2 separate regions of the Homo sapiens genome follow, and region 1 is linked to region 2. The links come from fine-mapping of genetic effects on gene expression. A gene starts in region 2. The other region holds a variant in brackets. All regions are shown on one strand. Distances are from middle to middle.

Evidence for each region. PIP is the estimated chance that this variant, and not a neighbour inherited with it, causes the effect.
Region 1: its variant is fine-mapped to the expression of DMGDH in T cells (TOPMed, PIP above 0.99).

The regions. Positions count from the first base shown.
Region 1 is chr5:79,132,574-79,149,325 of GRCh38, forward strand. No RefSeq gene overlaps it. Among named protein-coding and RNA genes, the nearest start is that of BHMT, 29 kb to the left of the region's middle. The variant G/A (reference allele first, on the strand shown) is at 7,006.
Region 2 is chr5:79,061,961-79,078,712 of GRCh38, forward strand. DMGDH (dimethylglycine dehydrogenase) reads right to left here and starts at 7,714. Exons shown (of 16, transcript NM_013391.3): 1 at 7,560-7,714; 2 at 1,653-1,827. The coding sequence starts at 7,660. BHMT2 (betaine--homocysteine S-methyltransferase 2) reads left to right here and starts at 7,807. Exons shown (of 8, transcript NM_017614.5): 1 at 7,807-7,855; 2 at 15,520-15,652. The coding sequence starts at 7,823.

The DNA.
Region 1 (16,752 bases), 71 kb after region 2:
CAAGACCAGTTTGGCCAACATGGTGAAACCCTGTCTCTACTAAAAATACAAAAATTAGCCAGGTGTGGTGGCACACACCTGTAGTCCCAGCTATTCGGGAGGCTGAGGCATGAGAATCACTTGAACCTGGGAGGCAGAGGCTGCAGTGAGCTGAGATTGCACCACTGCACTCCAGCCTGGGAGACAGAGTGAGACTCTGTCAAATAAATAAATAAATGGAAAGGCAAAGAAATTGCTAGAATTTTGTTACTAAGAGTTAATAATCCACCCCTAATCCCTCAATGCACAGAAACAGAGCCAAAGCAGCACAACTTTCAGAGGCTGCATATGGCTAGTGGAAACAAGAGTGAACTCCACTTGTTTTTTGTTTTTTGTTTTTTTTTTTGGCAAAGTTGTTATCTATCATTTCTCTTATATTCTCAAACCAAGCTCAGTATTTAAAGCTTTCACTCACAGATGACATTTTATTGGACTTGCTGTTCTATTACTGTGTAAAATGCATGTTCCTTTAATATTCTTTTCAGAGTTTTGTTGCCACCAAAATATTATAACCTTTAATCATTTTTATATCCATCGTTTTTTAAAATATTTTTCTGAAAAGGAGCTATGGTAAAGACATTCTTGAATTAAATTATATGTCAACACTGCCTCCTAGTGGTATAGTTCATATTTTGAAATTGTTTTTAAAATTTCAGTCCCTCCTCCAAACATGTGCATTTTATTTCCAGAAATCTTGTTCATTAAGAGAGAAAGCTCATTTAATACCTAAGAGTTGATTTATGTTAAATAGACATTTCTCACTGGTAAATATTTTTTATGGACTCCGAACCAGAGGGACCTTAGAGATCAAAAGTCCAAACTATCCTTTTAAGGATAAGATTACCAAGGCAGGATGCAAAGTCAGGAAGCACTTCTCACTATTCCAAGGCTGTCAAGAAAGACGGCTTTAGCTTAGCCTTTTGTAGGAAGGGTTGGGGAAGCTGGGGGGCAGTACCAGAACAGATGGTCCACAAAACTAAGGAGTCATCCTCCAGCCAGGAATAAAATAAAGGTCTTTGGCGTTACTCAGAGTAAACATGAACTCACTAAATAAACTGTTTGCAGTTTGTACTCTGACACTTCTACACACTGTAGCAAACCACCTTTGGATAAGACAGCCAAGCCAACGCAGACCCCTAAAGGAAACAAGAACTGCGCAGGAATGAATCAAGAACATCCGTTCCCAACTTCTCCAGATGGGGGCAGCAGGTCGCCAGCAGGAAATGCATGAGTAACCTTATTTTGTTTGAACTTAAGTTATTTCATCAGGCTAAGCTCTAACAGTTTTGGTCAGTTTTTTCTTAAGACATGTGGATCTTTGAATCACATCCAGGACAACGCACCCATCAAGAAAAGCCTTTAACAAGTTTGAGTCAGGAATTAAAAAAGAGGAAGGAAGGGAGAAAGGGAGGGAAAAAGGGAGGGAGAACGGGAGGGAAGGAAAGAAAGGAGAGAGGGAGGGAGGGAGGAGAGAGGCAGGGAGGGAGGAAGGAGGGCGGGGAGGGACTGCAGGAGAGCAGGCAGGCAGGCAGGCTTTATGCATCTCCAACTAGATCCCCATTTTCCCCAGAAACGTTTTTTTTTTTCCAGCCTTCAGCACACTGAAGGGCTTGAGGGCTTTATAGACTGTTCTCCCAAATAGCCTCCTTGATAGTCAATAACATCCACTCAGTCAGTCTGGAACCTCCCACGTGTTACCTGCCAGGTCAAGGACCCTGGCTCTTAGATAACAAAGGAGGAAGAAGTCAATTTCAAGAGAGAAAAATAGGACTTATGAACGGCTTCAGAAATAGTATGCCTGGTGGGATGTTAAACGACAGAATTAGAGATAGCAAGGTATAATATTTCTAAACATCTTCAGGAAGGAATATTTAGTGTTTGAACAGAAAATGATGAAAGGCAGGCAAATGCAAAGAATTCTCAAAAATGGTAACAGGAAGGGTAGGATCCTTTGGTAAAATTGGTGGGAGTGTGGTGAGAGAAAGGAATGGCCAGAAAATGCTTCCGGTTTTCAAGCAGCTGGAGGCATTCTGTTGGCATTGGATAGATGAAAAATTAAGATGATGGAAAATGAGAGAGACAGATGTCATCATTTATGCTGCTGTGAGTTACAGGAATAATACCAAACAAGTCATGTACAGCAAAACAGTAAAAACAGGTTAATTTATATGCCATGAAATCAAACGCATGATCATTTTAACTTGTGGTTAGATGGTTAGATGTTTACATTTAAATTTATTAAAGCTTCCAGGCTGGGCACGGTGGCTCACGCCTATAATCCCAGCAGTTTGGGAGGCCAAGGCAGGCAGATCACTTGAGGTCAGGAGTTCAAGACTAGCCTGCCAACATGGTGAAACCCCATCTCTACTAAAAACGCAAAACTTAGCTGGGCGTAGTGGCAGGCGCCTGTAATCCCAGCTACTTGGGAGGCTGAGGCAGGAGAATCACTTGAACTTGGGAGGCGGAGGTTGCAGTGAGCCGAGATCGCACCACTGCACTCTAGCTTGGGCAACAAGAGTGAAACTCCATCTCAAAAAAATAAATAAATAAAAATAAAAATAAATAAATTTATGAAAGTTTCCTATGTAAATACTTACATGAAATGTATTAAGGGAAACATTTCACTTATTTTTAATAAAAAGATATTTCTCTAAATGCCTGAACTATCTTTAGCAGTCATCACTTGCATGCAAACTGTTAATGTACCCTTCAGAAATTATTCCAGTTTGTTCTTTTGGGCAGGTTCAGTAAGACCTCTGCTTGGCCCCATTCTGTGGTTATTTGTTCCAATTTACTACATGATCTTGAAAGGAAAAAGCTGAATATCTTTTTAAATAGTTCAGACTTTTTCTCAAGTCAGCCTGGTCATTCTTCCAATTATTCTGACTTAATGAGATTTTACTGTTCTTTGCAAAAGTTAACGTCCTAAACACCTGAGGTAGCTTAGTGGAATTCACCTATGGCTCAAAAACACTAGTGGCACATAGCAGAAAAAGCAAGGAAGACATTTAGAATCAAGACTTTGGGGTGCAAGTCCTAGCTTTGCCCCAACTCCCTGCAGAACATTGGGTAAATCACCCCACTTCTCTGTCCTTCAATTTTCTCAACTGTAGGATAACAAGTTTCTAATGCCTTGCTGGAAAACTCCACAGTTGTTTGCGATTTGATGATATAAATAAATAATAGCCTCATCATTGTCAATAAATATTTACTGAATGCCACTTGGTGGTATGTTTCCAGCGGACTGAAATTGTTAATTAATTATTCCCCTGGCTAAACAGACAGCCGACTAAAACAAGTAACACTGTTCAGAGGGCAGGGAAAATGTTACTACCCTAGACTCAGCCTGGTGCTGAAAAATGAAAATGTCATTCCTCCCCACAGGTACTGTTTTCTAAGGAGACTTGGGTCTGTGGTTTTTCATATTATGAACTGTTTCTATTTTCAAGGTTCAGAATTCTTTGTAGATTTGCATAAGCTAAATATTCTAAAAATCATCAAGTGAGTAATTTTTGGTTTAGAGTCCTTCATCTACCTAGGAAGGGAGAGAGCTGGCTTCTCACATTTTGAGAATAGGAGAGTGGAATTTGGGAGCTAGACACCTCAGGATTTTTTTCCTTCCATCAGGCCATTCTCAGCAGCTTGATGACTCCCAGATTTCTCTCTCCAGCCTGGACTACTCCCCAGCATTCAGGCACATGATATCAGCCTGGCCTGTAGACCCAAGCCAGCGGTCCGTGGCCCGGACCCTGTACCTCAGGCCCCAAGCCACTTCCCATGGCCATTCAGGCAGATGCCCCAGGTCTGGAGCAGGTCCCACATGGATCCTGGTTGTCAGAGGCACCTTCCTCAAAATTGTTTACATCCTCCTCCAGTGGCTGAGAGCAGCCAGGGCCAGCTGTGCCATCTAGGAAGGGAACCCCAAGCCTGGACCAGTCAGCATGGGACCCAGTCCTCATTTGTCTCCTTCTGAGTGTTCAGTGACCCTGTACATCCCCGTACCATGTCCCTCACACCCACCCCACTCCTGGAGTGACCAAGTGCCCTAAGAAGCCTAAGGCTTTATGTTGGTCCTGGTTCCAGGAGGGAGCCCTGGTGATAGGATGGCTTCTGCTGGCAGGAACTGTATTTTATCCCAAGATCTGGTGAGATTGGGCTACCCAGTATGGTGCTGACACTCTGATTTTGGCTGACTCACATCAGACACAGGACAAGTTCAGGACCTTTGCCCCTTGCCTTGAGCAGTGAACGTAGGCCTTCATTGGCTCTCACCTGTGAGGGTTCTGACTGCAGCAATACCTATGGTCTGCAGCACTCAAGCGTAAACAAGAATCTAACATAAAATGAATTATTGACACTTCATGTATATATATATATATATATATGAATATATATTCATATATATGAATATATATGAATATACATATGAATATATATATGAATATACATATATGAATATATATATTATATACGAATATATATATGAATATATACGAATATATATACGAATATATAAACGAATATATACGAATATATATACACGAATACATATACGAATATATATATACGAATACATATACGAATATATATATACGAATACATATACGAATACATATACGAATATATATATACGAATACATATACGAATATATATATGAATATATACGAATATATATATGAATATATACGAATATATATATGAATATATACGAATATATACGAATATATACGAATATATGTGAATATATACGAATATATGTGAATATATATGAATATATGTGAATATATATGAATATATGTGAATATATGTGAATATATATGAATATATATGAATATATGAATATAAATGAATATATATGAATATATATGAATATATATATGAATATATATAAGAATATATATACGAATATATATGAATATATGAATATATATGAATATACATATATGAATATACATATGAATATACATATATACGAATATACATATGAATATACATACGAATATACATGAATATACATACGAATATACATGAATATACATACGAATATATATGAATATACATACGAATATATATACGAATATACATATACGAATATATATACGAATATATATACGAATATATGTGAATATATATACGAATATATGTGAATATATATACGAATATATATATGAATATATGTGTATATATATGTGAATATATATGAGAATATATATGTGAATATATATGTGAATATATATGTGAATCTATATGTGAATCTATATGTGAATATATATGTGAATCTATATGTGAATATATATGTGAATCTATATGTGAATATATATATGAATATATATGTGAATATATATGAATATATATGTGAATATATATGAATATATATGAATATATGTATATATACGAATATATATGAATATGTATATGAATATATATGAATATGTATATGAATATATATATTGGTATAGATATAGATATATATGTTAGTTTGAGACAGTCGTTCTGTCACCCAGGCTGGAGTGCAGTAGTATGAGTTCAAGCAATCCTCCCATCTCAGCTTCCCAAGTAGCTGGGACTACAAGTGCACACAACCAAGCTGGGATGATTTTTGTATTTTTGTAGTGATGGGGATTCACCATGTTGCCCAAACTGTTCTCAAACTCTGGGCTCAAGTGATCAGCTCACCTCTGTCTCCCAAAGTCCTGGGATTACAGGCATGAGCCACTGTGCCCAGCCTGTTCCCATATATTCTTGGTAAGACTTGCAGTTGTGGTCATCATCAACAAAGCACAGTAACCACCTCACAGAGAGTCATTTAATGGATGCCAGTTTTCAGAAGCATCCATTGATGCTTAATGTACCACCAGGAGTAATGATATAACCAGTATTAAACAAATGGTGTTGGGGAGCTACAGAAACAAGATCCATATTGTCTCAATACAGTTTCCAAAGAAGCATGGCATTGTCAGTAATAATGGCATTGCTATGTTTTTCTCACAATGGGAGATATGAAAGTATCACATGTGACAATAAAGAACAAGAGATTGTCCCTGTTCCTCAATAGGGACAGATGGTGTCTGGATACTATGAAGAATCTTTATGTGCACTAATTGGACAACAAGCAGTTACCTCTTCTCAACCCATTATTCTAAATCCTCATGAACATGTCACTCACTATACCTCACACAGGCCCATGAATGTTTAGATATGTTTTTAAATCAAATACCTTTAAAAATATATTTTAAAATCTAATTTTATATATATATATATATATGTAGGTGCTCCATAAAAATATTTTCCCAGAGCTCTCCACACCCAAGGAGCAGCCCAGTTGGACTCTGAAAACAAGGTCCTGATCTTCCCTTGCCCACTTAAACTTGTCTCTCCCACAGGATCTTTCATATTTGAAAATGGAAGTTCTACTCTTCTAGTTGCTCAAGCCAAAATCTTGAAGTCATCCTAGACTTTTCTCTTCCTCTTATACTCACATTCAATACATCAGCAAAGCCTGTCAGATCTACCTACAAAATGCATCCAAATTTGACTGCGTTCCACTTCCTCCTCCTTATTTCCTAGGGAGTAATGGACTAAGCTGCCATCATCTCTCACCTAGAATATTTCACAATAAATTTCTCTACAAGTTCCCTTAATTCCTCCCTAGTCTCCCTCAGATCTATTCTCCATAGAGTGTCCTGAATGATTCTTTTAAGAACTAAGTCATATCATGTCAGTCATCATTTCAAAACTTTGCAGTTGCCTTGTGTCACAGATCTTGAGTCATGCACTCAGATGTCCCTTCAAGGAAGGACAGGCTGCCCATCTGTGGGTTATGTGACTGCAGCCCCCAGCTGCCATCCCCTTCAATGTCAAAGCTGCAGACCCTTTGTTCAAAGTCACATCCTTCCCAGGCCAGCCTGCATCTGATGCCTGAGCAAAGCAAGGGCATAAAACCCTGGCATTCTGGCCTGACTAGC[G/A]GCAACTCTGACAGGAGATATTCTCTCCAGAACTCACCACCAGATTGGCCTAGGCATTTTTTGACCTGCATTGCAGTTCAGCTTCTACTTCTGCCCAGTCCTATCTCCTCTTCCTCTCTTTTCAAAAGTGTCAGACTGCACTGCAGTCTGAAGGGTGTCTCTGCCTACTCCTGTGCCTTCTACCTTTAATTTTCACTAGTATTTCCACTGCCCCTCCAGCAAAATCTTGCACTTCTATGTCCTTCTCAGCATGTGATTCCCAGAGGACAAAAAATGGCTCATTTTCCTTGACTGCCCTATGTGAAATAGCAACACACCCCTCTTCTATATCCTCTATCTTCATTGGGGTGCTTATTCTTCTCCATAGTGATTGTTACCACCTGCTGTGCATTTTTGGTCATATTTTATTCATTCACTCATTCATTCATTGTTTCCCCACAACATTAGAATATAAGCTCCTCAAAGGCAGGAACTTGACTTTGTTCACTTCCATACCTGAGTGCCTAGAATAATGCCTTGGGTATAGTAAGAGCTCAGTAAATATTTGATGAATGAAAAAACATGAATGCATATTTGGGAGACCCTTGCTAGAAAGAAGAAAACTTGAAAATTACAGAAACATTTCATTATTTTTTCTCAGACATCAGACTATTAGGAGCTGAAAATGTTTGTGGTTGGCTTACTTCCAAATTTGAACCTACACTCCCATTCTCTTCATTCCTACATGCACATATTTATGCTTCACATATTTGAGCACCTTATATGAGGCCTGACACTGGACTTAAGGGCTGAGAGGTACAAAGATGCCACTTGTCAGTTCCTGGATCAGTGAGGGAGACAAGCCCTCACTAAAGGACTTAAGTGCTCTAATAGACACTATGATTTGGATGTGGTTTGCTCCCACCAAAACCCATGTTGAAGTTTAATTGCCAGTGCAGCGGTCGTGGGAGGTAGGGTCTAGTGATGGTATATGGTCATGGAGGCAGATCTGTCATAAATAGATTAATGCCTTCTGGTGGGAGTGAGTGAGTTCTCGGTTTCATGGGAATGGATTAGTTCCCAAGAAAGCAAGTTGTTATAAGTGAGCCCAGCTTCTCCTATGTGTCTCTTTGCACATCCTGCTTCTGCTTTCTGCCAGTAGTTGAAGCAGCAGGAGACTCTCACCAGATGAGCTGCCTGATCTTGGACTTCCCAGCCACCAGAATCACGAGCCAAATAAACCTCTTTTATTTATAAATTACCCAGTCTCAGGTATTCCATTATAGCAACCCAAACAGACTAAGACCATAAATGCCACAAATGATGCTGTGAAGGCACAGAGAAAAGCTGCTTACACCAGCATAGTGAGGGCTGCGGTGCCCTGAGGAAGCCCAGAGAAACACTTCCATTCTGCTCACCTCTTTCTGTTCTTCAGACCCCCTAAGCTCATTCCTACCTCAGAGCCTTGGCACTGGTTGTTCCCTCTGCCTCCTGATCTTCAAGTGGTGGTACCTTCCTGTTATTCATGTCTCAGATCAAGTGTCACCCTTTCAGGGAGGCCCTCTTGAATACCTAAAGTTCTCCATCCACCCCGATCCCCTCAACCCCTAAACCTTGATTGGTTACTCTGTCAAGTAGCCTTGCTTTAGTTTTGTTGTTATTGTTGTTGTTCCCTTTTTGAGACAGGGTCTCGCTCTGTCACTCAGGCTGGAGTGCAGTGGTACAATCTTGGCTCACTGCAACCTCTGGCTCCTGAATTCAAGTGATTATCATGCCTCAGCCACCCAAGTGGCTGGAATTACAGGCACGCACCACCATGCTCAGCTAAAATTTTTTTGTGTTTTTAGTAGAGACAGAGTTTTGCCATGTTAGCCAGGCTGGTTCAAACTCCTGGCCTTATGTGATCTGCCCACCCTGGCCTCCCAAAGTGACTGGATTACAGGCATGAGCCACCGCACCAGGTACTTTTGTTCTTCATAGCACTTCACATGATCTATTTGGTTATTTAATTATTGTATACATTCTATCTCTTCCTCCCTGTGCTATAAGTCCTAAGAGGACAGGAACCTTGTTTTTCTTACTTATTGTCCCAACTCCAGTGCCTACAAGAGAGGGCTTGACACACACAAGGGACTTAATAATATTTATTGAATGATTATGTGGAAAAATGAATAAAAAGATAATGCTCCTATAGAGACATAAAGAAAGACTAGTGGCCAGGCTCAGTGGCTCATGCCTGTAATCCCAGGACTTTGGGAGGCTGAGGCAGGTGGATCACTGGAGGTCAGGAGTTTGAGATCAGCCTGGCCAACATGGTGAAACCCCATCTCTACTAAAAATACAAAAATTAGCTGGGTGTGGTGGCGGGCACCTGTAATCCCAGCTGCTTGGGAGGCTGAGGCAAGAGAATCGCTTGAACCTGGGAGGCAGAGGTTGCAGTGAGCCGAAATCATGCCACCGCACTCCAGCCTGGGCAACCAAAGCAAAACTCCGTCTCAGAAAAAGGAAAAAAAAAAAAGTGACTAGAAAGTCAAGGTGGGTGTGAGAGCAAGGCATTCCACGTTCCACATTAGGGGAAAAGCTTCTGCAAAAAAATGGTTTGCACTGCCTTTTTTTTTTTTTGGACAGAGTTTCGCTCTTCTTGCCCAGGCTGGAGTGCAGTGGCGTGATCTCAGCTCACTGCAACCTCCGCCTCCCGGGTTCAAGTGATTCTCCTGCCTCAGCCTCCCACATAGTTGGGGTTACAGGCACCCGCCACCATGCCCAGCTAATTTTTTGTATTTTTAGTAGAGATGGGGTTTCACTATGTTGACCAGGCTGGTCTTGAACTTCTGACCTCAGATGATCCACCCACCTCAGCCTCTCAAAGTGCTGGGATTATAGGCGTGAACAATCGTGCCCGGCCTGCACTGCTCTTTTTTCTTTCTTTCCTTTTTAAAATATCTTGCCCTTTCTGTGAAGATTCCAGAATGCACTACTGTTTTTTATCTCCCCAGGAGTCCCAACATCAGAAGTCTTCAGGTCTGGGTAATGGGATATGGTGATTCATTATACCATTCTCTCAACTTTTGTATCTTGAAATTTTTCATAATAAAATATTAAGGAAACAAAAGTCTTGGAGGCAAGTAAGTAATATAGATGTATGAAACAGCTCAGTTTTCAACCCAAAGGTGGAGCTGCATAAACCGGAAACAGCAGGCTCTGCATAAAAAATACTCAAATTTATTTTTTCCCCAAACTCTGGTGTGAGCTAAACACACCAGAGCCTGAATTCAGCCAGTTTGTGACCCCTGAACACCATAGGCTAAGACATGGATCCCAAATAATCTATTCACTCTATTCTGAAAAATGTTTACACAGAAATCCTCAACCATCTGGAGACCAAACCTCAGTAATATTGAAGAAACAATTTATTACATATTTTCACATAGCTAAAAGGGCAGATTTTGAATATTCCCAACACAAAGAAATAATAAATGTTTGAGGTGATGGGTATATTAATTACCTGATTTGATCATTATGCATTGCATATATGTATCAAAATATCACACTGTACACCATAAATATGTACAATTATGACTCAATTTAAAATAATAGCCAGGCACAGCAGCTCATGCCTGTAATCCCAGCATTCTGGGAGGCCAAGATGGGTGGATCACTTGAGTCCAGCAGTTCAAGACCAGCCTGGGAAACATGGTGAAACACTGTCTTTACCAAAAAAAAATTTAAAAATTTGAAATTGTTGGGTGTGGTGGTATGTGCCTGTAGTCCCGGCTACTCAGGAGGCTGAGGTGGGAGGACTGCTTAAGCCTGGGAGGCAGAAGTCACAGTGAGCCAAGATTGAGCCACTGTACTCCAGCTTGGGTGACTGAGCAAGACCTTGTCTCAAAATAATAATAAAAGAAAATAATAATATTAAAGAGTACCTCTATTTTCCAGAACCTCACTTCTGTTATGGCTCTGTTTTATGGCAGACTGCTCATTTTCTTACCTTCTCCAAAACTCCCCACAGGCAAAGGAGTTGGCTGCAGCTCTTCCATGCTCCCACTGCAACTTCCAACCATTCCTCTTCCACCCCCTGCACCACCCCATCAAAAGCCTCTTCTCTGAGGATCATCTCTTAACAATAGCCCACCTTCTTCCTGTCCTTGTTCTTTCAACCTTCTGCCTCCATGTCTCTCCACCACAGTCAGCAAAAGCTTGAACACCTCCTTACGAATTCTATCAACCCCAGCCATCAATCCCAGAGAACTCCAAACACCCACGAAGGTGACCCAGTCTGAAGCTGTCTTAGCAGCCACTTTGTCTCCCTCCCAGCTCACCTCAACTGCCCCCACTCCCTGCTAAGCCACACCTGAAATTCATAATGACCTTCCACCCTGAAATCCCACTCTCAGAGGCAGCCTCCCTCCTGAATCCAGGCCTCAATGAGTCCTACTACATCCGGGATCCCCAATCCCTTCGCCTTTCATTCTTTTTTCAATCTATCAGCCCCAATCTAACTTCACTTCTTTTCCTGATGTACTGCTTTGGTTTGCAACCTTAGCTAAATATTAGAATCACCTGGGGAGCTTTCATGACTCAGGATGACTAAGCTGGCTTAATCAATTACGTCAGATGCTCTGGGGGAAGGGCTCAATCAGCAGGGCTTTTAAGGCTCCCCCCAGTTGATTCCAACATGCAGTCACGGTGGAGAACCACTCAGTGCCCTGCAACCTAGATTCCATGGTTCATCACTTTAACCAATTTCCAGTGCACCTTCACTTCCTCATTCTTTTCTTCTCTGCCACATACTCCCCAAAAGCCCCTCAGCCTTGGAGCAATCCTGCTGCATACTTTCTCTATTCCTATAAGGAAGCTGCTGAATTCTGATGGAGGAAAATCACCAAACCATTAGCTTTCTCATGAGAATGAGTCTTACATAAGGCACTAACATAGTGGGATTTGAAGAATACCACCAATTCAAGATCATTCCTTTGCAACACACATTGACATCTAGCTCCTTATTGAGAGCTAGTCCTACCCCTATTGTTACCAGAATAGTGCAGTTAGTTCTGCATTGAGAAAAAATTATGAAATTCTCAGAGCTAAAATAAAGAGGGCCCAGTTGCTAACTAGAGACTCCTGTACTTCCAGGAGAGACTAGACTGGTTTGCCAGGTAATATTATGAAAATGTCTAAAGGAGAACTTTCCCCTTTGGGGGCAAAGATAAGGTTTGATAAGAGACCCCAGTCCCTGGATTGGGCCTCTTCTTCAAAACTAAGGGAGAGGAACTCAACGGAACCAAACCAAGGTTACAGGTTTCAGGGAAGAGGGAAGCCTTTCCCCTGGTCCCTGCTTGCATGACCTGTGAACACTGTTCTTGCCTATCTACCTCGAGCTACCAGCAGGAGAAGGAACATTGAGGCCAAAAGTGGAATGGTATGATCAGAAAAAGAGGGGCCAGATAACACCCCCTCAAATTCCCAGTTTCTTGAAAGTAGAGAACACGAGGCTGCTTCCTCCCCAGAAGCCCCATAGTTGGAATCCTGGAAAGTATGTGAGATTGGAGGCCATGGCCTTGTCAAAGCCATCACGGCATGAGGCAAAGAGGCTCTGGCCTTAGAAGAAGGTGGTTCCACCAGCTGGAAGCCCTAAAGCCCTAAAGGGAATCAAACCCAAAGAGTACCAGAGGTAGTCTCTCAAAGGTCTACCTCTGGTTTGCAACCTATCTAAGTCTCTCAAAGGTCTACCTCTGGTTTGCAACCTATCTAAGTCTCTCAAAGGTCTACCTCTGGTACTCTTTGGGTTTGATTCCCTTTAGGGCTTCCATCCTTGTCTCTCAGAGACAATGAGCCCCACAGCAATGCTGACTGCAATTCCACCTCAGGAGGTATCTTTTCCTTTTCCCTCCTCCCTCTCCCCATGCTAGAAGGGTACACGATGGAAAAGGGTGGGCTCTTGTGAGAGAACAGCACACACCCTACCCCTCTCTCACTCACACATACAAACACAAAATCACACACAGTCACCGAGGCTACAAACCTGGTATGTACTGAAGGAAAAGGGAGAACTTTAAATCAAACATGAACTTGAAGTTTAAAATGGAATCAGGATTTGTGGAGAAAGAATCTGATTGTCACTTTGGGTCAGATGTTCACTCCTAGTACAATCCACCATGGCCAGGGCTGGGTTATCTAGTGTCAAAATGGCTACCCGGTAGCCACCCCATGAAGGAGGGAGTCAGGCTTAAAAGACAGGCAGAGAGATGGTAAGTATGGCAGCCACCTCAGAGGTGGTTTTCCAGGAGTTTCTTTTCTTCCTGATCAGAAATTGGGACAAATTGGGAATGCTGAGCTTCTGAGAAGCTAAGTAATGCTGCAGGTAGAAAGGAATAAAGAAGCAAGACAAAGAAAGGGAAGCTGAAAGATACCCTTCACTTATGTAAATTTAGCCAGCCCAAGCTTATTCCTTTTTGGTTAACAGATTTCCTCCTGTAACTTCCACATTTTTATCTGCAGGTTTCTCCATTTATTATATACTTTATATGGCCCCACAGAAATCATCTTTGACTAATATATTACTAGAGCGACATATGACTATATTACAAGCTAAAAGAAAAAAACAACACAGGGTCAATAAACTATCTGGAGGAACATTGCAAAGCTTGGAAAAACTAAAAATGATTGCCAAGACACACATAAGAAGAAACAGGGAAAAAAAGCACAAATATCTTAAGGGTATAGGACAAGAATTGGGAATTCTGTCACATCTATGCCTGGAAAATAAGGGTGGTACACAGCACAACATGAAACTTGTATGATTACAGAAAACCGTCTCCAGGTGACTGCCCAGAGGTATTCACCTGTCGGAAACATATGACTGTCAAGATGAATCAGAGCTGTGTAAATTAACCAGTGGGTACAGTGTAGGCAGAAATATGTTTTAGAGAGAAAGGCTGTAGCCTTGGATTTGTGGGCAGGAGTAGGCATGCAGAGAATGAAAAACAGAACTAGGAAAGAGAACAAAACAAATTCCTAATTCTTTTCTTCAACTGCTTGTGCAATTCAGTAGCTGGGCTTAAGTTTCCAAACAGGATAAGAGATGGAAAGTAATGACATCACCTAAAGTATTAACATAACCTAAAGAATGGCTTAAATATTTTTGCATGTGAAAGGAAGTATAATCGGGAATAATGACTTTTTTTTTTCTTTTCCTTTTTTTGAGACAGAGTTTTGCTCTGTTGCCCAGGCTGGAGTCCAGTGGCATGATCTCAGCTCACTGCAACCTTCGCCTCCTGGGTTCATGCAATTCTCCTGCCTCAGCCTCCCAAGTGGCTGGGGATTACAGACGTGTGCCACCACACCCAGCTAATTTTTGTATTTTTAGTAGAGATGGGGTTTCACCATTTTGGTTAGGCTAGTCTCGAACTCCTGACCTCAAGTGATCCACCCACCTTGGCCTCTCAAAGTGCTGGCATTACAGGTGTGAACCACCGCACCCAGCCCTAATGACATTTATTTTGAGCAAAATTTTAAACTGTTTCCTTAAGCACACTCAGGACTGGATCCATAAAACCAGGTAGAGTGATTAACAAGCCTGCTCTCCAGTTCCTCAGCTTTATTTATGTTTCCAAATTGTAATAACCCTACTTAATGATTAAGAGCAAAAAATAGGATCCAAGTCAGTGTAAAGTGCATATTAAAATATTTTTCTTGCTAGATCATTATGTTTCTAGGAAACTTTTGGATTTCCTGGAACTATTTTGTATAATTTTTTAAAAATCTACAATAAATCTTACATGACAGATTCTGCTAATGAAAGAGATGGGAAAATGTTTGAATACACAGAAAGCTTTCTGGAAGTAAGACCTATGACTCCATTGAATAGTAAAAGGAAGGAAGAAATATTTTTAAAGATATTTAGCATTAGAGTGGCCTAAATGTTGTAAATAAACCCGTACTTTTGAGAATAACCTGTTTTGGCAAAAACGTAATTTCTTTTTTCCTTTTTTTTTTTTTAGACAAGATATTGCTGAGATGTTGCCCAGATTGGTCTCAAGCTCCCAAGTTCAAGCAATCCTCTGAATCCTCTGGCCTCAGCCTTCCAAGTAACTGAGATTACAGGCATGTGTCATGGTGCCCAATTTATCAATGCGATGTGTCTACAAGTGGAGTGGCACATTCAAATATTTGTTGCTGTTGTCATTTGTCCATTCATTTGTTGACTCAGTAGCATTAACTGAGTGTCTATTCCAATGTGCAGACACTATGCCAGGTGCTCGGGTGGAAGGAGGAATAAAAATAATGGTCATAATAACTACCATTTCCTGAGTGCTTATTACATGACTATCTCCTCAAACCTCACAACAAGAGAATGGCTACGTATTATTATTTACATTTTCCAGAAGAGGAAACTGAGACTTGCCTGAACCCACCTAAACCAGAAGGATAGAGCAAGAGTGAAGCCAGAGGTGGGCCCAGCATCTGCTGCTCCTTTTTGTTTTTTTGAGATGGAGTTTCACTCTTGCTGCCCAGGCTGGTGTGCAATGGTGAGGTCCCGGCTCACTGCAACCTCCACCTCCCGGGTTCAAGCAATTATCCTGCCTCGGCCTCCCAAGTTACTGGGATTACAGGAGCGTGTAATACCTGGCTAATTTTTGTATTTTTAGTAGAGACAGGGTTTCACCATGTTGGCCAGGCTGGTCACGAACTCCTGACCTCAAGTGATCTGTCCGCCTCGGCCTCCTAAAGTGCTGGGATTACGGGCGTGATCCACCGCACCTGGTCTGCTGCTCTTAATCACTATATGCACACCTTCCTGCAAGAAGCTAATTAGTGTAGAATTTATTTCAAAATCTCTAGGAGCCAATATATTCTTGGCACATAGCAGATTCAATAAATATTTGCTAAATGAATGGAAACTGAGTTGCCAAATTTGTATTTTAATTTTGGCTTGTGTAAAACAATGTGTTACCTACTTGCTCTGGTGGATGTGATTGTAAATAATTACAATCTTGCCAATTGCTTGCAAATATTGTGTTGGTCACATGTAAAAGTCTTGCTACAGAAGCCAGGCCTGAAGCACCTGATTAAATAGGTCTGAATAGTATGTTGCAGAATTTAGAAGTGGGTGTATTATGATTCCAGAGCTTAGCACTCCTCTCCCTCAGCAGATTATTCATATTTTAGTTTGGTTGAAGTTACTGGAGCTATACAAGCTGATTGAAATTAAGCATTTCATTTATTTATATATTTTAAAGAAAAACACTAATTTCTATCAGAGTGAAGGGCTAGGAAAGGTTTGTGACCTAGGGACGCTTACGTCCCTTTCCAGGTCTGCGATGGGCTAGTGGTGCGTGCCCCTCTACACCTGATTCTGAAATAGGTTCGGAATGAACAGCCTTCCAGCTGCCTGTGTGACTCTAAGACTCTCCTCTGGGGTACACAGACAGAGGTTATTGAAAGGGAATCTATTTCCATTTGGAAGGACTGTTTCCTACGATTAATCTGCCTGAAAACACACCTATGGTCCAGGTGTTGTGTGGGTTTTCTCACCCACCTTTTCTTTAAGGACCACTTCCCACCATTTAAAAAATAAAAACAAAACAAAACAAAAAACACCTTCCACTCACCCCAAATCTTTCTATGGCACCTCAATGTAAAACCTGGGATTGCCTTGAGAGGTAAAAACCCTGAGGTAACACACACGGGCAGAATCCTAAATACTGGTGCTGAGAAAGTGAATGACTTTAACGATTGATTAAATCTTCTTTTTTCTAGATGTGG
Region 2 (16,752 bases):
ATCAGTATATAAGTGAGCAAATAAGTAATTCAAACATTAAAGCGTATGCCCTCAGTAACAATTCAGAAGTGGTGAGAGGGTGTAAGCCCTCCCTCGAAGGGTATTTCCACTTGCCTACATTTCCCTGCCTAAATGATCTTTCCAGAATAGCCTCATGGCCCCCTGGCTCACTGCTCCCTGGTCTCTGTTGGCAGGTCGCCTCTTTGAAACATCCTCCCTAGCACCTCCTTCTTCTCCTCCTCCATCATTTTGCATCCTTGACTGTACTTTACTTTTCTTCATGGTGATTACTCTCTAGCATTGATAGGTGTTTTCTGTCTGCCCCACCAGAATGTGAGTTCCACAAGGGCAAGGTCTTTGGGCTTTTATGTCTGGGCAGCACTCTCCCCCAGATTCAGCTGGAAGCAGGCAATCCTTTTCATGCTAGACTCTCCACCCTATACTTTGAGCACATACTAGATGTCAAAAAGCCCCTCAAAGTGAGGTTCCCTCTTCTCAGCCAAGGAAGGCTAATGATGAAATGGGATGATGAGCAGGGGCTAACGCTGCCCAAAAGAAAACTGCACCAGCAGTCCTAAAAACTTCCTCTCCCATCCCTAAATGATGTCAGAAATCCCTGGTTTGGCAATATGACAGCAGTGTCAATCCCTTCATCTACCTGGGCAGCTTTCCAGGTAAGCCTAGTCAATTATGGCGCAGCCCTGGAACAATTATGCATACCATGAAGAATGCAAGACTGACTTGGCCTGTGTCTCATGTAACACAAAAGCTGTGCTACACTTTTGCAGTCCTCATATTCAAGTCCTCAGGGGGCCAAACTGTCATCTCACAGCATAAAATTAAAACCATAAGGCCAGGCGCAGTGGTTCACTCCTGTAATCTCAGCACTTTGGGAGGCCAAGGCAGGCGGATCATGAGGTCAAGAGATAGAGACCAGCCTGACCAACACGGTGAAACCCCGTCTCTACTAAAAATACAAAAATTAGCTGGGTGTGGTGGTGTGCACCTGTAGTCACAGCTACTCGGAAGGCTGAGGCAAGAGAATCGCTTGAACCTGGGAGGCGGAAGTTGCAGTGAGCCGAGATCGCGCCATTGCACTCCAGCCTGGTAACAGCGAGACTCCATTTCAAAAAAAATAAAAAATAAAAAATAAAAATAAATAAAACCATAAGTAAATAAAAGGACCACCAAATGCAGGTGAGGGGAGTATAGGTAAAGATCTTGGGCCCATATCCAGGCTCACCCAGACAGTATCCTTCCATATAAAGCTGACATTTATTATCCAATACCTTGCGTTTAATAATTTTGCACATGTTAACTCAATCTTCATCACAATCCTATTAGGTAAGTACTATTAATATTCCTATTAAGACATCAGAAAATGGAAACTTATGTAACTTGCCAAAAGTCACACAAGGGTAGAAAATTGCAAAGCCAGGATTCGAATCCAGAAGCCATCTGTTCAAGATAAAGACATCATAAATATTGGTTGTCATCTGGAAGTACACCAGTTAAACTACAACTGCACTTCCAACGCTATTGAAGGGGAACGCACTCTAAAGAGCTCACAGTTGGGAGTTGTGAACGGGAAGGAAATGGACTTTACTCATGCACAATTCCACGCTTATGACAGTTTGGGGTGCTTTTCTTACTGCGTGCCAGGTAGATCCAGCCGTGAGCTCTGATTTCTCCAGCAGGACCACATCTTTCATCCCTGCTTTGGCCAGGTGATAAGCCAGACTCACACCAACACAGCCACCTCCAATTATCACTGTTTCTGCTCTGTCTTTCCATTGTGTTTCTGCAGATAAGGGTGGTTTTTCCTCTCTGGAAGAGGGAAAGTTAAAATGGGAACTTCAATCGGCAATGGTAGCTATAGTTCTGGCCTAAAGCACTTCCCCTTACCCGTTTCTCTAGTACTTAACACCCACTGACTGAGATTTGCATGATACTGATTTAATAATTTGGAGCATCTAAACTGTGATTTAGGCAACCTGGTTGGGGGAGGGGTGTTTGAGCCCCATTCCATATAATGATTCTGGTCCATTGTAGCTACTATAGCCAAAGAAATGAACAAGTAGCTTCTTTTTTTCAAAGAATCTAGAGAACAGGTCAGGTTTGGTGATGCACACCTGTAATCCCAGCACTTTGGAAGGCCGAGATGGGAAGATTGCTTGAGCCCAGGAGTTCAAGACAACCCTGGGCAACATGACGAAGCCCCGTCTCTATAAAAAATACAAAAATTATCCAGGCTTGGTGGCACATGCCTATAGTCCCAGCTACTTGGGAGGCTGAGGTAAGAGGACTGCTTGAGCCTAGGAGGTTGAAGCTGCAGTGAACCATGAGTGCGCCACTCCACTCAGACCTAGCAGACAGAGTGAGGCCCTGTCTCAAAAGGAAAAAAAAAAAAAGATTTAAAATTGTACAGCTGTCTAGGGTACTTTACCATGAATCAAGCTTGTAGGACTGGAAGTTGCTCTAGATGAGTCTGAGTGAGAGGTGAGTGAATGTGAAGGCCTAGGACATTACTGTACACTACTGTAGACTTTATCAACACTGTACATTTAGGCTACTCTAAGTTTATTTTTAAATGTATTTTTCTTTTTTCAATAATAAATTAACAGCTTACTGTAACTTCATTATTTTATAAACTTTTAAATTTTTTTGATTTTTGTAATAACAGTTTAAATGCAAACACATTCTACAGCTATATAGAAATATTTTATTTCTTTATATCCTTATTCTGGAACCTTTTTTCTATTACAAAATATATATATTTTTTTAACTTTTCAAACTTTTTTTTTTCCAAGACAGAGTATTACTCTTTTGCCCAGCCTAGAGTACAGTGGCTTGATCTTGGCTCACTGCAACCTCCACCTACTGGGTTCAAGCAATTCTCCTGCCTCAGCCTCCCATGTAGCTGGGATTACAGGTGTGCACCACCACACCCAGCTAATTTTTGTGTTTTTGGTAGAGATGAGGTTTCACCATGTTGGCCAGGCTGGTCTTGAACTCCTGACCTCAAGTGATCCTCCAGCCTTGGCCTCCCAGAGTGCTGGGATTACAGGCATGAGCCACTGTGCCTGGCCTCAAACTTTTTTATTAAAAACTAAGACACAAACACACACATTAGCCTAGGCATACACAGGGTCAGGATCATCAATATCACTGTCTTCACACCTCCAAATCTTGTCCCACTGGAAGGTCTTCAGGGGCAATAACACATACACAGCTGTCATCTCTTTTTCTTTTCTTTTCCTTTTTTTTTTTTTTTTTGAGACAGCGTCTCACTCTGTCACCCAGGCTGGAGTGCAGTGGCGCCATCTTTGCAAATTCCACCCCCAAGGTTGAAGCGATTCTTGTGCCTTAGCCTCCCGAGTAGCTGGGATTACAGACACGTACCACCACGCCCAGCTAATTTTTGTATTTTTAGTGGAGACGGGGTTTCACCATGTTGGCCAGGCTGGTCTTAAACTCCTGACCTCAAGTGATCTACCTGCCTTGGCCTCCCAGAGTGCTGGGATTACAGGCATGAGCCACCATGCCCGGCCAGAGCTGTCATGTCTTATGATAACAATGCCTTCTTCAGGAATACCTCCTGAAGGACCTGTCTGAGCCAATTTTACTGTTAACTTTTTATTTTATAAGTAGGAGTATACTCTAAAATGATGATTTAAAGTATAGTGTAGTAAATACATAAACCAGTAGCACAGTGATTTATTATCATTGTCAAGCATTATGTACTGTATGTAATTGCATGTGCTATAGCTTTATGTGACCGGCAGCACAGTAGGTTTGTTTAACCAGCATCACTACAAACACGTGAGCAATGTGTTGCATATGACATTATGACAGCTATGACATCACTGGGTGATAGGAATTTTTCAGCTCCATTATAATCTTACGGGACCACCATTGTATATGTGGTCCATCATTGACCGAAACATCATTATAAGGCACATGACTATACATATATGTATATTATAATATGTATATTCTATGTGTATACACATTTTAGAGTAAATTGTAGGTATCATACCCAGTTACTTCTAAATATTCTTTTGCTAGTTTGGTAAGAAAAAGGACATTCTCTTACATAACAACAGTACAGTTTTCAAAGTCAAGAAATTTAACATTGATATACTATTATCTATAGTCCATATTTAAATTTAATCAATTATTCCAATCAATTTATAGCTACTTTTTTCCAGTCAGAGATCAAATCCAGGATTCTGTCTCTTTAATCCCCTTTAATTTGGAACAGTTCCTAATACTTCCTTTGTGTTTTATGACCTTCACATTTTCGAAGAGTACTAGCCAGTTATTCTATTTTATTTTTTTTTTAGATGGAGTCTTGCTCTGTTGCCCAGGCTGGAGTGCAGTGGCACGATCTCGGCTCACTGCAAGCTCCACCTCCCAGGTTCATGCCATTCTCCTGCCTCAGCCTCCCAAGTAGCTGGGACTGCAGGCGCCCACCACCACGCCCGGCTAATTTTTTTTTTTTTTTGTATTTTTAGTAGAGACGGGGTTTCTCCATGCTAACCGGGATGGTCTTGATCTCCTGACCTCGTGATCCGCCTGCCTCAGCCTCCCAAAGTGCTGTGATTACAGGTGTGAGCCACCACGCCCGGCCAGTACTAGCCAGTTATTTTATAGAACAGTTCTTACTGTGAGTTTGTCTGGTGTTTCCTCATGATGAGACTTATGTTATGCATTTTTGGCAAAAACATCATGAAACTGATGTTGACTCCTTCCCAGTGTATATGATTAAGAAGCGTATGATGTTGGTTTGTCCTGATATTGGTGTTGTTTCTGTCTGATGACTTGCTTAAGGTGGTGTCTGTCTGATTTGTCTAGTAAAGCTACCATTTTTTCCTTTGTATAAGTAATAATGTGAAGTGTTACTTTGAGACCATGTAAATATCCTGGTCCTTATCAAACTTTTACTGAGTGGCTTTAACATCTATTGATTATTTCCTAACCCCATCATTCCTATTATATTTAATAGTTGGCATTCTACTGTAAGGAAGTAATTTTCTTTCACCCTTGTTTGTTGGTTGTTTATATTAACATGAATTTATGGATATTTATTGTTTTCAGTGGTTTCTAATCCATTACTAGTCATCATTTATTTGAATACCAAATTGTCCTAGATTTGGCCAGCAGGAGGTTCTTTCAGTTGACTCCTGTATGCTTTTGACATGGCTACATAATTCTTAGAGCATGTCCTTATTTCCTGGTGCCACAACATGTTTCAGCAGTTTTGTTTCACCGGTTTTTAGATGACTATTAATGTCTCTTTGTATGCTGTGTGAGAAAAAAATAATGTACATATGACCCAACTACTTTGGACGGAAATCCATTTTTAAACAGACTGGGCATATCTTGTACTTTAGTTGAAACCATTATAGTGGTGACAAAAATAATAATCTTAAAGGTTCTTTTTTGTGTGTTCAAAAGAAAGAATTATTTCTTTCAGGACAGTGGTCAGTTGAAACAACAACAACAAAAGAGAACTTAAGATCAGGAAACCTGGGTTTGAGTCCCCAATCCAACTGAACAGCTATTTTAGAGAAATTTACACAAGGGTCTCAAAGTTTTCTCATTTGCAAAACGGAGCTGTGAAGGTTCTGTTTGGCAACATATGATAAAGCATTATCAAATATATAGTATTTCCTCGGCCCAGCATGCCATAATAGGTTTCAGACTAGGTATAGTGTTTTTGATTATGTGGATAACTATCTTAAAATCCTTCTGAATGTAGTCGAGGATGTTTATAAGAGTATTTGAAATAAAACTTAGGAGCCATGCAAAAAACCCAGGTCAGTTATCTTCTGTATTAGAAATGATAAGCACAAACTGTATGCTTGTTCAACTGCTTTCCAAAATAAAACATTTTTTGATAGTTTGAAATTGGGTATATAAAGAATATGCAATTGAAATAACTCAACTTTTGGGTGTTTTTGTTTTTGTTTGTGAGATGGAATCCCTGTCGCCCAGGCTGGAGTGCAGTGGTGCAATCTCGGTTCTCACTGCAGTCTCCGCCTCCCAGGTTCAAGCGATTCTCCCGCCTCAGCCTCCCAAGCAGCTTGGACTACAGGTGCACACCATGACACCCAGTTAATTTTTGCATTTTTATTAGAGACAGAGTTTCACCATGTTGATCAGGCTGGTCTCAAACTCCTGGCCTCAAGTAATCTGCCCACCTCAGCTTCCCAAAGTGCTGAGATTACAGGCATGAGCCACCACACTCAGCCAAAATATGAATTTTTTGGATAGTCTTGAAATTTGTATCTTATTTATCTAATCAGTTTGTTTGTTAAATTTCCATTTTATTTTGCACTGGATTAAAAACATCATTATTATAAATATTTTTGCATTGCTTTACAATTTACAAAGCACTTTCACATGCATTCTCTTATTTAATATTCACAGCAATCCTGTGAGTTATATAGAGCAAAATTAGTATCCTCATTTTATAGATGAGGAAACTGAACCTCAGAAGTGTAAGGTCACATTCTGTGTAACAGATGGCGCAGGAACTGTGAGTTGGTGGCTACTGCATTCCCAGTACTGGAGACAAACCTAGCACATCACAACACCCAGTAAATATTTGTTGAATGGATAGATGGAACTCAAAAGCAGGTCTTCTGATTCCAGAATTTCAGGTCATAGGACATAAAATAAAATTCGAATCAACTCATAATAATGTTGAGTGATGCTGATAAACAAGCCTTTCCTGGCAACCAGGAATAATCTACAAATATAAGAAGTCGAAAGATGTTCAGCATTGCTCATATTTAAATACAGACCAATCAAAACAAGGACATGCCATTTTTACCTATCAGATTTAGCAAAGATAACAAAATGGGCTATTCTGGGAACCAGGGAAGATGTGGGAAACAGACACACACTGGTGTGCCGCATGCAAACTCTTGCCACCCACTTGGAGAATGTGTTGCTGTCTTTCAATCTTTCAGATGCACGTAACCTTTTCCCTAACAAGTTCACCTTTAAAAACTGTTGCTACCGACTCCCATATGTACTCAAAGATAGATGCCTAAGAATTTTCACATGCACGTTATTTGCAGTAATAAACAACCAAAAACCATTTAAATGTTAATGAATAGACTAACGATAGTGTAGAATATTGACAGGATGGAAAACTATGCAGCCATTAAAAGGAACAAGGCAAGTCAGTGTGTGCTGATATGGAACAATCTCCAAGATATATTGATAATTGTAAAAAGCAAGATGTCAAAAAGCCAAAGGAAAACCTATACTGACCTGTGTTTGCCTATGCGTAGACTGTCTCTGGTTAGATTCAGAAGACACTATTAACAATTGTTCACTGGCCAAGGGGATTGGGGCAGGAGAGACTTTACACGGGGAACCTTTGGATACTGTTTCACTTTATAATTAAAAGATAATTCGAGAAGATATATCAAGGCCTATTTCTTGGAGGCCAGAGCGCTCCTAACCCCTGAGCCTGCCTCAGCCTCTGGCTCCCACCCCCGCAGCCGCCCCGTCGCCTCTGAGCAGGACGGGGCCCCACTCACCCTTCCCGGCCGCAGACAGAGCGCGGGCGCCCGGGGGAGCCCTGCAGCGGGCAGCTCCGCAGCAGGAGGCCCCGCAGCAGCTGCGCGCCGGGACGGAGCATGACTAGGCCGAGGCCGAGGGCGCAGGCGCCTGCTCCGAGGCCAGCGGGCAGCCTGAGGCCGCGGGGCCGGCGGGGCGGGGGTCGGATCCTCCCCCCGGGCTGGGGGCGGGCTCCTAGACGGCCGCGCGCCCGGGAACCCGGCGCCCACAGAGCCGCGGCACCATGGCACCTGCTGGACGCCCGGGGGCCAAGAAGGTGAGTTTCGTCCCCTCGATCCTCGCGGAGCTCCTGGCCGCTGGGCTGCGAGCGACTCCGTTCACACCCGGCGTCCATCCCTAGCCAAGCCCTGGGGCCTCGGCAAAACACTTGGACGGGATGGCCCTGAGCCTCAATTTTCCCCTGTCACGGGTTGGTTAGCGTTTATGGAGCCCTTACTCGGTGCCTGGCGCTGCACAGAGTGCTGTGCTCAAGTTATCTCCTCATCTTCACAATTATCCCCATTTCACAGGTGAGGAAACTGAGGCTCGGCGAGTCAGGCGACTAGCTCAGGGTCACGGGTCCAGCCCCGCGGGGAGCGAGGATCAGAAGTCTAGCTTTCGGACGCATGTCGCGCACACATTTTCTTCCCTCAACCGACCCTCGCCCGCAGCTCTTTGGGCTAATCCGTCCGGGAACTCTTCGGACTGTCCCCTCGCGTTTTGGAAAAGTCAGCAGCCTGGCCAAGCAGCCTGGCCTTGCGAGTCGCCGGCTGGTCTGAAACTAGTCCTGGGCAAGGACGCCCCCAGAGCTGCGGTGCAGGGTGGAGGGTAGGTGGGATTCGCTAGCACCCCTCAACCTCCTCTCACCCGGTGGTCCCCAGCTCCTGGCCCCTTTCCTGGTCTGGTCACCAGATGTTGGCTTTATGCCCAGCCATTTCTACGTCGAGTATGTGTGGGGGTGGGATGAAGGAGTGACTAAGCAAAATTAGGAAGGGCATGAGCTTGGACGAAAGACATCCCCAGGACCCTTCAGAGACCCCCACCCGCTCCAGCCCTGTCATTCAGAATGGGAGGAAGGGAGGAGGGGCAGTTTATGCGTGGAAATGTGCACCACCGAGCTATTTATACTAAAAAGTTAGAAACGACCAAGATACTCTGCAATACGGGATTCTAAATAAATTAAGGTTCATCTACTTAAGTTATTAGACAGTTAAATAACTTAGTATGAGAACCAGCTAAGTGCCTTGGCAATGTTAAGTTGCAAAAGGAAATATATCACAAACTGATCCCAACCATATACAAATATTTATATACACACTGTAAGGAAGGACACAATAATGGTAATAGTTACACAAGATGTGGAATATTGGTTTAAAAAGCATGTTTTAGGATATTTTTTCAGGTTATAAAAGCAAAATGTGAGCATTGAAAGAATACAGTTAATAAAAATAATCAAAGAACATTGTGCTTTTTTCTCTCAACTTTCTCTAATGCTATGTTCATCTTTACAGTTCATATTTTTAAACGTTTTTAAAATGCCCTGTTTTTGTTCAGTGTCTTTGGGGCCTCTACTGTTACAACACCAAGATTATCACACACTAATCCATGTGAATGTGTACCTGGGAGTTAAGGTGTTAATGGGAAGGAACTAATCTCACCTCTCTCCTCAGCTAGCAGGTACATTTTAAGAATTCATTTAATTGCCACAGACAAGACCTCCAATTAGGTCTTAAATCCAAAAGAGCAGTTCTGCTGGCAAATCTAGGAAAAGGGGAAGTTATTTTAGACAGACTGGGTTTTTCTGATCACCTCCTACTACACAGTGAAGTTGATCCCCACTGAGTATGAATAGAGATGTCTTGAAGCCAGATCTTAAACCCAGAGGTCTTACGTAGTGATATCTGCAAAAAGGGGGCATAAATGCACCCTAGAGCTCGCTGTCAGATGCAAGGCAGGTTCACTGCCAAACTGATGGGGAGGAGGGAATGAAAATATAAATGTACTGCAAAATTAATTTACAGGGTTCCTTATTTTACATGTTCCTGTCTTTATAATTTTACAGTTGACTTTAGATCGTACTAGTATAATGGTGAGGAACAACACACACTGGGGCCTATCGAAGGGTGGAGGGTGGAAGGAGGGAGAGGATCAGGAAAAATAACTAATGGATACTAGGCTTAATACCTGGGTGAGGAAATAACCCATATAGCAAACCTCCAATGATGCACATTTACCTGTGTAACAAACCTGCACATCCTGCACATGTACCCCTGAACTTAAAAGTAAAAAAAAAAAAAAAAAAAAAAACTAAAGAAGGGATCATACTGGTATAGTAATTAATTGAGGTAGTTAGAATAGCAGTGAAGGAAGGGCTAAAAGATGCTCTGATCTCAAATCTTGATAACTTAGTTATTTTGCTAATGGCTATGTAGAAAAATGGCAAATTGGCCGGGCACAGTGGCTCACACCTGTAATCCTAGCACTTTGGGAGGCCGAGGCAGGCAGATCATCTAAGGTCAGGAGTTCGAGACCACACTGGACAACATGGTGAAACCCTGTCTCTACTAAAAAATACAAAATTAGCTGGGCATGGTGGCATGCACCTATAATCCCAGCTACTTGCGAGGCTGAGGCAGGAGAATTGCTTGAACCCTGGAGGTGGAGGTTGCAGTGAGCTGAGATCGCGCTACTGCACTCCAGCCTGGGCGACAAGAGTGAAACTCTGTCTCAAAAAAAAAAAGAAAGAAAAGAAAAGAAAAATGGCAAATTTAAAATGGTGGACAAACATCCAGATAACAAATGAAAATGTCCTCCCTTTACTTGGTTTCATAAAGACACAGTCAAAATATATACTACAATTTTCTTAAAACCTACCTAATTGTCTGCTAAAGAGTAACATTTTTTCTTCTTCAGGACAAAAATTCTAGCATATGCAATACATCTGACATTTTCAAAACAGTCCTGTTTATTTGCTAATTCTTGGCATAGTTTCTTAAGTGTCTACTCATTTTAGTTGTTATATGTGGTGGTAGGGATATAGACCAATAAGATATGTCACCTGCCCCCAAGCCTCTTACAGTCAAACTGAGGTGACAAGTAAGTAACCAGATACTGCTGTACAGGGGGATGCATGAATGAAGGATCTGTGAAGTTAAGCAGGACACAAAAGGGGTATAATCACAGGTGAGACTGGGTCAGTGAGCCTGTGCTCTGGTAGCAATGGAAGACAGTTCAGAGTAGGGCTGGAGAGAACTGGAGACCATTTCAATAATCAAATGCAGTGAGGATGGTGGGGCATTTGAGAAATGTGTAATACACTTGGCATAACCCTGTGATAGGTTGGATGTGGGAGGTGAGAAGCTAACCTACAACATCTGAATTCTGTGCCAATGTTTTCCCTCGACAATTGTTTGAGTAAATTTGATTCTTTTTTTTTTTTTTTTGAGACAGAGTCTCACTCTGTTGCCCAGGCTGGAATGCAGTGGCACAATCTCAACTCACTGTAACTTCCAACTCCCAGGTTCAAGCTATTCTCCTGCCTCCACCTCACAAGTAGCTGGGATTACAGGCACCTGCCACCATGCCCAGTTAATTTTTGTATTTTTAGTAGAGATGGAGTTTCACCATGTTGGCCAAGCTAGTCTCAAACTCCTGACCTCAAGTGATCTGCCTGCCTCAGCCTCCCAAAGTGCTGGGATTACAGGCGTGAGCCACCGCGCCTGGCCTAAATTTGATTCTTAACATGGTGAACCTAATGAAGTGTATGGGATTTTCAGGAAAACAGTTTGTACACAGTAACTGTACCTCTGACTTTCTCTTCTGTATTCCTGTGTAGCATTTATTGGTCACATTCTGCTGTGATTATTTGTTGATTTATTGGCCTTCCCCAAAGTAGCCAGACTTTGAGCTTGTGGAGGGCAGAGACCTTGTCTTATTCTGATGTTTATCCCACTTGCCCACAACTATACCTGACATGTGGAAGGTCTCAATAAACGTCCAAAATTTAAGGCCTTTTTTATATTTCAAAAGTACAAATTGAAAAGAGTGAATTGCATTTGATGCAGGGAGGAGAAAGAAAGAGATGAGAATCAGTAAATATTAACATTTCTTCTGCATTCAGCTAAAATTCAGCTTTAGATATAAAATATGGAAAAATAACCAGAGTTGAGAGCTCTCTCTGCCAAAATAGTGTTTATGTTTAACATAGTTCACACAGCTGGGCTCCATTTGCCTGCCCTCCAAGTGCACAGTAAAAAGATGCTGTAGGTAGAGTGACCTGGTATTTACCTCTAGTTAAACCCCTTCTGATGGACCTTCTTGCACTGCAGAGGAAAGAAAACTAACCACTTTGCCAGACTCCTTTGCAGCTAGGATCTGGATAAGAACTAGCATCCCCAATCAGATGCACCAGTATGAGTCTGGGAAGGTGGAAGCATAGCAAATGTGGCCATAGTGCAGCATTCCAGGGTCACGTGAGGGGCAGCTGAGGTCGCTGGAGCAGCCTCCTTCTCCCTATATGACAGCTGTGTCCTGAAGCCAACAGTTCAATAGTGGCTTCTCTTAGTTGTGGCAGAGGGTGCAGCCCCAGCCGGCCAATTCAGTCATGTTTTTCTAGGGGTCATTTCTGGAAGCCCAGTGTAAATTTTTTATGTACCCATTTCTCAATATTAAACTCCTTTCTGCTTAGTCAGAGTGGTTTGTACTTCTGCAGCTAAACTGAACATGGGGAGAAAGCTAGAATAAGCCCCCTCTCTAGTCATGCCATTCGATGGAGATTAAGAGATTATTCAAGCCATATTTGACCTCTCATGTTTGGTTCCATACTGTTAACAGGACTGTCCTGGGAGGCTCTGTGGGAAGATCCTCACGTCTGCTTTAATTTCTGGTTGCTTTTATTAGATCCAGGATTGACCCAGCTAAGGACAAAGACTCCTGTAACCAAGATCAAATTAGCTTCCCTCTTATTCTTTATTGCCTTTATGGCCTTCCAGCCTCCTGGGAAAAGATTGAAGAAAATAGTATATCAAGCAATATGGCCAAAATGTGTTTGGGATCTCTTTGTTCCTTGGTATCCAAGGAAGCTCGCTCCTGACACCTGGGTGGGTCACTTTGTGTGGGGAGTAAGCAAAGGAGAAATAGCAGATGCCAGACACTAGAACAGAAGCAGTTTCTCTCCAAAATCTGTTCCCCCTCCTTCCGAAGGATTAGCGTTGGAGCTGGACACATGGACATTCACTGATGATACTTCCTGGCTTCCCTTGCAGCAAGGTAGAGCCATGTGGCTAAACTCTCACGCAGGAAATGTAAATGTCAATGAGATGAGTCACTTCTAGGTCTGAGCTAAAAACTTTAGGATGAGCTTTGCCACACTGTTTCCTCATCGTTTGAGACAGAGTATGAACGTGACTCTGATCCAGTTTCCCCCATGCTGAGGAGGACAGTACCCTAGGGCTGGGTTGGCAAACGCTTTCTGTAAAGGGTCAGATAGTAATTATTTTTAGCCTTGGGGGCCATACAGTCTCAGTGGTAACTACTCAACTCTGCTACTGTAGTGGAAAAGTGGCCATTAGACAATATGTAAATCAATGGGCAGGGTTTTACCTAAGACTGTTTTTACAAAAACAGGTGATGTGCCAGATTTGGTCTGTGGGCTGTCATGTGCTGACCCCTGCCGTAGGGAATGGCAAAGCAATAAGATAAAAGGACTGTGCAATTTGGTGCACACTCTGTAAAAAAGAGTCCCCCACAAACAGTGGCTTTCCTCTTACAGAGGAAAAAGAAACTACTTTTATTTAAAGCCACTGTTGTGGGGGCCTCTTTTTTACACAGCTTAGTTTTACCCTACACCCAACACGTAGGCCAGTAAGCTGCCTATGTACCCTGCTTGATGTCTCCCTTGGATTCAGGAACTGAGGGGGTTTATGTTGATTTCATAGAACAGATAAGACTAGTTAAAAGAGGCATCTGAGGCTTTTCTCCCTGATCCATTCATTGCTTTGTGTCCAGCTATGGGCAGGCCTGAAATGAACTGGCCTATTATCAATAAAAGGTTGCATCTTCCACTGATGCAGCCTACAAAAGAGGGATCAGGATTGCTGTGGGGAGTTGGGAGGAGTGGGTGGTTTGCATTGCTCAGGGAAGGCATCTCTGAAAAGGTGACACTTGACCAAAGACCAGAAAGCAGTGAGGGGATGACCCTGCAGGCACCTGGGGAGATGTGCTTTAGACCAAGTGAAATGGGAAAAGTTCCCTTATGCCCCTTGCAGGGTGTGTGATGGAGGCGTGGATCACTTCTTCAGCACCCCACAGCTTAAACCCCTAGGGGGAGCATGCAGGTACCCCATGGCAGCATCTAGGGGTGAATGTTTACAGCTCCTGAAGCCCCAGTGGGTGTGTGTTACAGTGTGCTCTTTCAGCTTAGCTGTCCACTGGCAGCTTGTGTTAATCAGCTCAATTAGACCCTCCGCCTTATCGAAAGGACAGAGGGCTTTCTGTATCCTGGGGTTCTTGCCAGTGTACTGGAAAAATTGGATCACACATGGGCTTGGAGAATGAGTGCAAGGTTTTATCGAATGGTGGAAGTAGCTCTCAGCAGATGGATGGGGAGCCAGAAGGGGGATGGAGTGGGAAGGCGGTCTTCCCCTGGAGTCAGGCCGCTCAGCAGCCAGACTCTCCTCTGATTACCCCTGGCTGAATTCCACTTCGTCTGTGTCATTCTGCCACCGATGGCCTGCCAGAGTCTGTGTGTTCTTCTGCCAGTGTGTTCCTCTCAACGTCCAGCTGCTTGTGTTTGTGTTTGCTAGGGTCTTGAGGTTTTTATAGGCACAGGATGGAGGTGTGGCGGGCCAGGGTGGTCTTGGAAAATGCAACATTTGGGCGCAAAAACAGGAGTGCCTATCCTCACCAGGGTCTGTGGGCACAGGCCTGAGGCCTTTCTGTATCAAAAGGAAACTGCACCCCATGGCTAACTGCTCTGAATGGAACCTTTTAAATAAGTTATGAGTGGGCTAAATAGGAAGGTGGTAAAATAGAAGGAAAAGAGAGTAGGAATTTAGAAGCTAGTCTGATTTTTTACTTACTTAGCTCTGTGATCTTGGGCAAGTCAACCATTCTGAGCCTCAGTTTCCTCATCTACACCTGAGAATAAAAACTGTGTCCTGCCTCACTGGCAGAGTTGCTGGGAGTGCCAAATGATAAGACACGTGTGAACACACTGCATGACTACAAAGCGTTGTGTCCACTACCGTTCTGTTCAGTGGCTGACACGAAGAAAAATTATTTTTCTCACCTAACAAGAGGTCCAGGGGTAACAGCCCATGGCTGCCGCAGCCACCCAAGGATGTCTTAAGAAATCTGCCTCATATGGCTGTCAGATGACTGCTGTATTCCCAGGCATTATGTTGGCATTCCAGCCAGGAAGGAGGAAAATAGACAAAAGGGAAGGGAGTGGGCGTCTATGTCAGGAAAGCAAAACTTTTCCAGAAATCCTCCACCAGCTTCCGTATGTGTCTCACTGGCCAGCACTGTGTCACAGGGCTGCTCCCAGAGGCAAAGGAACCTGGGAATTTTTTGAAAGTTAGGGGCATTGTCCCCCCACACAAAAACAGGGGAGAGAATGCACACTAGGTAGACAACTAGCTGTGTTGTCACAAACATGTTGAAAAGCCAAAATAACTATCGTGGAATCAGTGCTATAATTTGACTCAGATTAAATGTTATTTAAGAATAAATAGTCTCAGCCCTTTCATTGTACAAAATAGGAACCTGGATCGGCCAAGAAATATGGTATGCTCAATCTTTCTGAAATATTATTAGAGCACATGATTTTAACAAAACTACAGCTCTAAGAACGTAATACCACTTCACCTAAAATTAGAAAATGCTTTTAGGAAAAAAAAAAAAAGTAGAGCGGAGCTTAGGTGCTTTTTTTCTCTTCTTCAGGGGATTTTGGAGCGCCTGGAGAGTGGGGAGGTTGTGATTGGAGATGGCAGCTTTCTCATTACTCTGGAGAAGAGAGGCTATGTGAAGGCTGGGCTCTGGACTCCAGAGGCAGTGATAGAACACCCAGACGCAGGTTGGTGTCCACATCCCCAAGAGTGTCTACCTGAGTGGTATTTTATTTAAATCTGATTGAGAGAAGATCAAGAAAAAAATAACAACTGTTTCAAAGGGGTGTTTTGCTTGCTAAGATTGCCAAGATGTGGAGATAATGGCAGTATACAGGCGGAAGTATATGGAAGAAAATGACCTCTCTCTCTCTCATACACACACCTACCCACATCACACACCCACCCATCCACACGCCCACACACACTCCCACACACACACATCCATGCACTCACACCCCAACCCCACATCCACACACACCCCACATCCACACCCACATACACCACAAACACACATACACACCCACACAACACACTCTCACACACACACACACTCTCATACACACACACATCTGCATCTTAATGTACAGGCAGTGCTAAAATAGACATCTTAATATTTGTTCCATGAATATTTACCTTGTAGATATACAGAGTTTCCTTAAAACAGCAAAACTGTTCCTGCTTCTGATTCACCCTGCTGACAATGTGCATGGTTAAGTGTAACAGCGTTTATAGTGAGGGTGATTAATGGTAGTCACAGTGTAACAGAGCACAGACAGCCAGGTTCCAGGGTTGGGAGGGCAAGGAAGTCAACACAGTTTTATATCATCCTCCTGGCTGGGAAAAAAAAAAAAAAAAAAGAGCTAGAGGTAAAGAACTATGATGGGATTAGATAGTTACCTGAAATGAAAACTTTAATTCTCTTCTAACTCTTTTTTTGTGTGTTTGTTCTCCTAAATTAAAGTGAGAAAATAAAGCCAAAGAATGAAATGGGTGTAAGAGAACACTAGCTGAGACTGGAACTTTTGATTCACTCTGATTTTATGTATATTCACACAGCGTATCAGATAAACCTAGGGTCCTGTCTTGATTCTTCCACTGACCAGCTGTGTGACCTTGGACAAGTCACTTGACCTCTCCAAGGATCCATATCTTAATCTGTTTCATGGGGGCACAACATGGGCTAGGTGTGAGGACTCACAAGTTAACCCGTGTGAAGTGCCCGTATCATCAGTACGATGGCCGTTATGATTGGTGCATCGGACACCCAGAGTTCTGTGGTAGAGCA